Linked DNA regions of Homo sapiens. Each later gene encodes a partner of the first gene's protein in a complex. Each region holds a gene or a part of one and is shown on either strand. Other genes may lie near its edges. The genes, in order: YWHAH and NEDD4L. A codon is read from its position in the direction of its gene.

Region 1 (3,900 bases):
CTAGCATGCTCTTTAAATATATTCACTAGGGGAAAGATTAGCCTGGTTTGTTAACCTCGATTCCAACAGCAAAAGTGACTCTTCAAAGCATGGTGAAGCCTGGGGTAGTGGCCTCCTCCTAGACCCACATTCAAATCCTGTTTCATGGGCCCCCAGAAGTGTGATCGTTTCAGCATCATAGCAGGAAGAGGAAGGCCTGGGAGGCAGGAAACCTGGTATGGAGACCCCAGCTCTGCTCACTCGCTGTGCAAACTAGGGCCAGCCCCTCCTTTCCCTCAGACCTCAGTTTCCCGTTATTCAGGATAAGGGGTTAGACAGGGGTGATTCTAAGGGTCCTGCCAGCTCTGACATTTCAGCATGTGGATATCTATTCTAAAGTCCTTGAAACAGTTAAGTCCAATTCTCCAGATGGAAAACAGGTCCAGAAAAGGCCTGGTCTCCAGTTCCCTCCCTTCTCCCTTCGAACATGTCTTACTCTCTAGAGCAAGATTCCAGGCCTGAAATATGGCTTCCCAATTACCTAAGGATGAAGCCTCAAATCTTTGGCCTGGCATTTAAAAGACTCCGTAATCTTGTTTTACCCAACCTCACTTCCCATTCTTAGGCCTCTCTTCTCACCATCTCCCAGGTCACTGCCAAGCCTTTGCCAATGCTGTACCCCAGGCCTTAATCTTTTTCCTGACTCTCCTTCAAGATCCAGCTTATCCCTGTGGGCTGAGCATGCAGTAGATGCTCAATAAAATTCTCAGCGAGCCCAAGGCCCCCTCTCCTGCACTGCCCTTGGCGTGTTGAAATCAAGTGGGGGCCTTGTTTTAATCATCATTTTCCTAGCTTGTCGGGCAGCCCAGTCCAGGGCCTGGCACAAGGGACCCTCAGCATCCAATACCAGCCAGGATTGGGAGGGGCTCAGTGACCAGCCAGTTGGGCCACCCCAGCTCTTTGCCACAAGAGAAAGTTCAGCCTGGGTTTGGACTCAGATCCTGGCCCCACCACTTACAGGCTGCGTAACCCTGAGCAAGTCACTAACCTCGCTTTTCCTCAGGTTCCACGTTTTAAATATGGGGAGACCAGCTGTGCCCACTGTGGGCTGGGTAGTGAGGATTAAAGAGGAGGATGCTTGTACGGGACTAGCACTGGGCTGGCTCCTAATGTGTCCTGAATATTACTTGTCCCGCCCTGGCCACCCAGTCCCCTCCTCTGGTGGAAGGCACAGCCTGCCCAAGGCTACGTCTCAGGTTGGGTTCGATTGTGTGTGTCTGTGTAGCGGGGCTGTCCCCGAGGGTCGGACTCGATCCTGCCCGGACCAGTACAAGGTGTGGCCCAGCAGAACGCATGGACAGGCAGGGCTCGGGGCGGGCGGGACGGCTGGGGCGGGGCTGGGCGGACCCGCCCCTCGGGGCACGCGGTCTCCCGGCTTCTCCGCCAGTATGTTTGCTTGCTTTTGGGGCCCTTCTCAAGCCAGATCTCTAACGTGGATGGAGTGGCGCGTTTCAGGGTGGGGCTATGACAATGCACTGCCTGTGCAGCCGCCATCACCGCGCCCCCTCCACCGGCTCCGCAGTCTCCTGCCCGGCTTTCCCTTCTCCACCTCCATCTCTGCGGCGGTAAAATGCAGCACTCGCAGAGCGCCTGCGCGGCTTTCAGGCCGGGCGGCGGCGGCGGCGGTGGCTATTTATAGTAGGTGACGTCACCTTGAAATAGACCGTTAGGGCCGGCCCGCCCTTCCCCCCTCCCACTCCCGCCGCTCCCCGCCGCCCGGCCTGGCCACTCTCACTGCGCAGGCGTCGTCCCGTCCTCCCATCCCCCAGCGCGGCCGCGTCTCCTCCCTCGGCGTTGTCCGCGGCGCGAGCCACAGCGCGCGGGGCGAGCCAGCGAGAGGGCGCGAGCGGCGGCGCTGCCTGCAGCCTGCAGCCTGCAGCCTCCGGCCGGCCGGCGAGCCAGTGCGCGTGCGCGGCGGCGGCCTCCGCAGCGACCGGGGAGCGGACTGACCGGCGGGAGGGCTAGCGAGCCAGCGGTGTGAGGCGCGAGGCGAGGCCGAGCCGCGAGCGACATGGGGGACCGGGAGCAGCTGCTGCAGCGGGCGCGGCTGGCCGAGCAGGCGGAGCGCTACGACGACATGGCCTCCGCTATGAAGGCGGTGAGCGCGCCGGGAGCCCGGGCGGCTGGCCGGGGGGGGCCTGGCGTTGGGGAGGGACGGGGATGGCCGCGGGCGCGTTCCCCTCCCGGCCATGGGCGACCCGGCGACCCGGCTGGGCGTGGCCGCCCGCCCGCCCTTAGCCCGCGCTTCCCGCTCCCGCTGGGCGCCCCGCCACTTCCTGAGGCTGGGCCCAGGGTGGGGGATCCGGGAGGGTGCAGTTCGGGATCGCGAAGGCAGCCCCGGAAGGGGGGCGGGCCGGTCGGGGTCGCCACATCTTAGTTCGGAACCCGGCCGGGGGCAGAGGGTGCCCTAGGGGACGCGAAGGAGCCGCATTTCTCCTAGAGCGTTTCACCGGACCCGGGGGCTCCCCCTCTCGTCTTCCTCCGTTCCCCAACTTGGAATAAAGAATCACCTAGTAAGTGGCGCCCTGTCTCAGCTGGTTTTCTCTGCCACGACCTGAAGTCTGCAATTCCGATCTGTTTTGCTCTGCTCGTTCGAATTGTTCTGGTTCCATCTTCCCACGCCTGGGGGTCTGGCTTTGTGTGCGAAGACCCCTTTCCTGCAGTCTAGGCGTGGACGGGGGCGGGAGAGTGGGCGGAGGGTGTGGGGCCCCACTCCACAGCCCCAGGTTTGCTGCTGCGCTGTCTGCTTGGAGATTAAAATGAAACGTGACTTCTAGGTGAGACGAATCTGTGTGTCTTTGCATTCCTGAGACCCTCATAAATCGATTCTGCAGCTTCTCCGGTGGATGAGTCGTGCCCAGCCACACCCTAGCAAAATACCGTGGGTCACACACCACCTGCATTTCTGAGTTCCGGTTACCATCTCACTCTCTCTCCACGTTATTTTACGTTTTCTGTAAATGAATATTTCCTCTCCCTGCGTCAAGGTCACACAGTGGTAGAACAACTGCGACCACCAACCTATGTTCAGTGTACAACCTCCTGAGACCTGGGAGGATCCCCTTGAACTCCGCCTTAGACCTATACATTCAGAAATTCGGGCGGTGAGACTCAGACATCTGCATTGTAACCAGCTCTCACAGGCGATTTTTAGCTGGCTTAAGTCTGAGAATTACTGCCCATGATTATAGTAAATGTATCCTTTGCTGGCCTTTTGGAGGGAGTTCCGAAAAAAAACTGCCAATACAAAGGCTCCCTAAAATCTTAAGTCATTTGGAAAGCTCATTTGAAGGCTTTTGATGTTAATATCAGATGAAATATGTAGTTGGGGCCAATATTTAGGATTGTTCAGGTAAGAAAGGTGCTTGAAGAGTTGCCTTTCCTCTGGTGTCCTTGTTACACACATAACTGGGTGTGTTTGGAAACCAGCAACACCGTTGCCCGTATGTTGATTTGTTGGTGATCTTGACTTGAGCACTATTAGCATGCTGTTGTGGTGAGGCAGGTTTTCTTCCAGACCGGGGGACGGTCTAGGTCTGGAGGCTGAACTTTATGTAATTCAGGGGGTCCTTTAAAAGAAAATCTAAAATATAGTTTTGCATATTTTACAAAAATGGGACTGACGAATGCATTTCCTTGGAAGGGACCCTGAACCTTAATTTTCTGTGGGATAAAGCTGCCTCTGTCCACAGCAGGTCACACTTAAGCCCCTCCTCCCCAGTAACTGAGTGGTGCTGGGATTATGCAGGCTGAGGCCTCTCCACACATTTTCATGAAGTGGTTGCTCACCCTCTAAGTGAGACGTAAAGACTGCAGTGTTCGGAGCCCTTTGGGAAATAAATGTGGTGAAAAGAAAGGAGG
Region 2 (3,900 bases), on another chromosome or scaffold:
TGATCCTCCTGCCTCTGCCTCCCAAAATGCTAGCATTATTATTCAATTACTTTTCTTCCTTTATAATATAAACTGTACAAATTTTACAAAGGTTTGGCTAGTGAGGGTAGGTAGAGAAGCACTGACTCCCATCCATGAGGGTCACAGGCTAGGGCAAGGGCATCTGAGAATGCGTGTGTGTGTGTGTGTGTGTGTGTGAGAGAGAGAGAGAGAAAGACAGAGTGTGCACGTGTACCTTTTGTTTATCAAAAGACTTTAGGGTTGTTTTTTTTTGTTTTTGTTTTTTTTGAGACGGAGTCTCGCTCTGTGGTCCAGGCTGGAGTGCAGTGGCGCAGTCTCGGCTCACTGCAACCTCCGCCTCCCAGGTTCAAGGGATCCTCATGCCTCAGCCTCCCCGAGTAGCTGGGATTACAGGCGCCCGCCACCACGCCTGGGTAATTTTTGTATTTTTAGTAGAGATGGAGTTTCACCACATTGGCCAGCTGGTCTTGAACTACCGATCTTATGATCCGCCCGCCTCAGCCTCCCAAAGTGCTGGGATTACAGGTTTGAGCCACCGTGCCCGGTCTAAAGACTCGAGGTTTGAAAGGGTTGAAAAACCTCAGTATTGAAAGAATGGACAGAAATCTGACTTTTAAATAGTCCTCCATAAATAGTTCTCATTGGGGGTTTTGTGGCCTGTAAGTACTGTGGACTTGACGGCTCAAGACTTCTAGAGAAGGCTTCTGAGTAGGATGTTGACTCCATGGGGCTAAGTCGTCAAAGGAAACCCATTCTACGGCACAGGTTTTAAGCCAGTCATGCTGCAGGAAGGCAAAGGAGAGCTTAAGGTAGCATGGGTGGGCTCTTTTGAAAACGAACTAGCAGGGCGAACAGCAGATATTTAGTTATGTAGCTGGCAACGAGGAATATGATTCCTTCGGGTCACGCGAGTTCTCTCTGAACTTCCTTGAATGAAAATCCTAAATGCATCCTGGTAATACCCAAGTAGGCACTTTGACGTTTCCTTTTCAAAGGCAAATGGAATGTTCTGCGTCTGTTTTCTTTTTGAACTCCCAACTGCACTTAACATCTAAATTTAAGGAAAGGCTTCCGAAAAAGTCGACTGACGAATTTCTTTCACTTATTTAAAGTAGTCTCTTGCAGTCCTATAAATCGGAAGGATTAAATGAACTGCTTGCTAGAGAAACGGTAGCTGGGTGGTGGGAAGAATCCTACGGTGGCTAATAAGACGTCTCGATCATTTGCATATGCAAAGGATAACCTTAAGCTTGAGTTTGATATTTCACGTTGCGGCTCACAAATGAACTGCTTTTTATTCAAAGAACCATGCTGTCTGTTTTCGCGTGGGTGGGTGTGTAACCGGGGCGGGCGCTATGTTGGTTTTGTTCCCTGCAAGGTTGACACAGGCAATGGCGACTTGCGGCCACACTGGGGCAGCCTCTCCTCGGCTGGCAGCCGGGCCGGGCGGCTCGCTCCCGGGAGCTGACAATGTAGCCAAGTCCTGCTCGTCGGGGCCGCAAAGAATTTAAAGGGGTCTAGAAACATCCATCTTTTCCCCTTTTCACAGTTAACAGCGAGCTCAGGGCTCTCGGTAAAAAGACCACCGGGAGGAAGAAACGCTCAGGGCGTTTTTGTTATTGTTCGCAAAATCCTCTATCGCCCCCAAACGTCCAGCCCGCCCCCTCCCTAAAGCGGAGGGAAACCGGGAGAGGAGGGAGGGTCGGCGGCGCCGGCCAAGCGCGCCAGTACACGCCCCTGCGGATCCGCCCCGCGGCCGGGTGACCCCCGCCGCGCCGCGCTGGAGGCCCCGGGCCGGGGTGGGCGTGGGGCTGAACTCCGCCACCCCCGCAGCCCGCGGCCCGCTCGCCAGCCCGGCCTGTGATTGGCTTGGGGGGCGCGTGTGCCCGCCCCGGCGAACGGGGAGGGTACCCTCGCGGCGCCGGTGGGAGGAGGCGGAGGAGGGGGCGGAGAGAGCGGGGGCCCGGACGGCGCTAGCGAGGAGGCGGGCGAGCCGGGTCCCCGGGAGCGCAGAGGAGGCTCGGAGGGGGGCGGAGAGCGGCGGGGCGGGAGGGAGGCGCGGGTCGCGGGGAGGGAAAGCCCGGCCGGGTCTGCGCCGCCGCCGCGCGCAGTGAGAGGCGCCGGGGCTGCCGCCCGGTGCTCGGCGCGCTCTCGGGAGCCGCCCGCCCGCTGGTCCCGCAGCCTTCCGGGAGGAAGCGGTGCCGGCAGCGTCCAGGGCGCGCTCTCGGGCACCCTCACCTGCCGGCGCCCGGCCGCTTACCCGGCAGGGCGTGCGCAGGGTAGGGTGCGGGACCGGGGGGACCTGGAGGCAGAGGGGAGAACCGGCCGTCCGCGCCGCAGCACAGCCGCTGGGAGCGCCTCAGACCCCGCGCGGGGCGCCGGCTCCATGGCGACCGGGCTCGGGGAGCCGGTCTATGGACTTTCCGAAGACGAGGTGAGTGGCACCCCCTTCCTGCTCGGGACTCCCCGGGGAGTTCCTATCCCGCGCCGGCAGGGGGAGGGGAAAGGGGCCGTCCCCGGGGTGCTCGTGCCCAGCGTCTGCAGGGGAGCCCCAAAGCGGGAGCGCCCCGGAGCGGGATCCAGGGGAGCTTGGGTCCTTCCGCACCCCCCACCCTCCGCAAGCCGAGCTCATTGTTTGTAAATAAAGCGGCGCGACGCCCTTGGAGCTGGGGGTTCACTCCGCAGCTCCTCGCTTTCGGGAGGAGAGGGAGGGGGCATGCGTGCCTCTCTTCCCTCTTCCTCTCCAAGCAGCGTCTCCCGGGGCTGTTGGGCAACTTTCCGCCTCTCGCCCCTGCAGCCCGGGAGTCCATGATGCATGTCACGTCTGGGTCGCGCGGCTGGAGACCCGGGACTGCGGAGAAGCCGGATCGTTTCCCCCTGGAACTTTCTCTCTCATGATTGTGTGGATCAGCAGGCGCTCAGAAGCCTGTGCGTGCTTATCCCGGCGGGAATGGGGGACACGCTGCGTGTGTCCCTCCCCTCGTTTTGCAAAGTCTACGGCCAGGATTGTGGATTTCGGAGCCTCGGTGGGGGAGGTGTTCAAGGCTGGTGGCAGGTGCTCCTGGAAACTTGGGGAGGAAGCTTGCAGCCCTGCCATTTTTTCCTCCCGAGGATTCAAAGCCCGGCACCTCCAGGGTGGGTGGGGAGAGGAAAGCTTAATTGATCTCTTTTATTAATAAAGCGACTGAATAAGCCACGCCTCCCAGGCGGTCGGTTTCACTGGAAAGGGCTTTGTTTTTACCTTCATTCTCTCTTCCGTGTCTCCCACTCCCCCCTTTTGAAACAATCCTGCTAAATCACTGCCTAGTCCTCTCTCGACCAGCCACGCTCGGCTCTTATTGGTATGTTGCTCTGCCAAAAAGGGGGGTGGGACGCTTGTCGCGGGCGCGGCGTGACAGGCAGGCTGGATGGAGCAGGTAGGAGTGGTTTGCCATCTGGCGGGGTGCGCGCTCAGGTCTGGCTCCCCTTTCGAGAGGTGAATTTTACAACCCAAGAAGCATTACTCAGCAGGGAGGTATTTCCTATCCTGGTTGTGCATTTCATGAAAAGTTGATGCCTGGAAATTCAGGCGTTCTCGATTTCTCTTTCTTCCCCTCCCTCCTTTCTTTTCAGAGGTTCCCTCTTTCTCTCGTGTTGGGGGTGGGGTTGGAAGAAAGGCTATTATCTGAGACAGGCTCGCGTTATGGCTCCGCTTTCTGCGGCTCTCCTACCCTGGCATGGTGTGTGTGTGTGCCTGTGTGCTACGTAAGTGTGGAATGAAAGGTATTTTGGGGTGGGAAGGGTGTTTAGGGTATGAATTTTTTTCTTAGCGGTGCTAGGCAAAGCTTGATGTATTTATTTGATCAAAGAATGATCACAGTGCAAATAATGTGTGATTTG

What was found.
Region 2: the proteins of YWHAH (region 1) and NEDD4L are in contact, whole or in part, in a crystal structure (PDB 7NMZ), measured with the Homo sapiens proteins. Residues at the interface, in NP_003396.1 of Homo sapiens: Arg12 (codon at 2,084), Glu15 (codon at 2,093), Asn39, Asn43, Leu44, Ser46, Val47, Lys50, Arg57, Lys125, Arg132, Tyr133, Gly174, Leu177, Asn178, Val181, Tyr184, Glu185, Leu221, Leu225, Asp228, Asn229, Leu232, Trp233; in NP_001138439.1 of Homo sapiens: Pro444, Arg445, Ser446, Leu447, Ser448, Ser449, Pro450, Thr451, Val452, Thr453, Leu454, Ser455.

What each region holds. Positions count from the first base shown.
Region 1 is NC_000022.11:31,942,684-31,946,583, forward strand, and holds the start of YWHAH (14-3-3 protein eta), read left to right. Parts: upstream 1-1,851; 5' UTR 1,852-2,050; coding exon 2,051-2,137; intron 2,138-2,150; exon of another isoform or gene 2,151-2,683; intron 2,684-2,816; exon of another isoform or gene 2,817-2,995; intron 2,996-3,900. UniProt on the Homo sapiens protein: Adapter protein implicated in the regulation of a large spectrum of both general and specialized signaling pathways. Binds to a large number of partners, usually by recognition of a phosphoserine or phosphothreonine motif.
Region 2 is NC_000018.10:58,042,254-58,046,153, forward strand, and holds the start of NEDD4L (E3 ubiquitin-protein ligase NEDD4-like), read left to right. Parts: upstream 1-1,972; 5' UTR 1,973-2,407; coding exon 2,408-2,455; intron 2,456-3,403; exon of another isoform or gene 3,404-3,535; intron 3,536-3,680; exon of another isoform or gene 3,681-3,765; intron 3,766-3,900. UniProt on the Homo sapiens protein: E3 ubiquitin-protein ligase that mediates the polyubiquitination of lysine and cysteine residues on target proteins and is thereby implicated in the regulation of various signaling pathways including autophagy, innate immunity or DNA repair.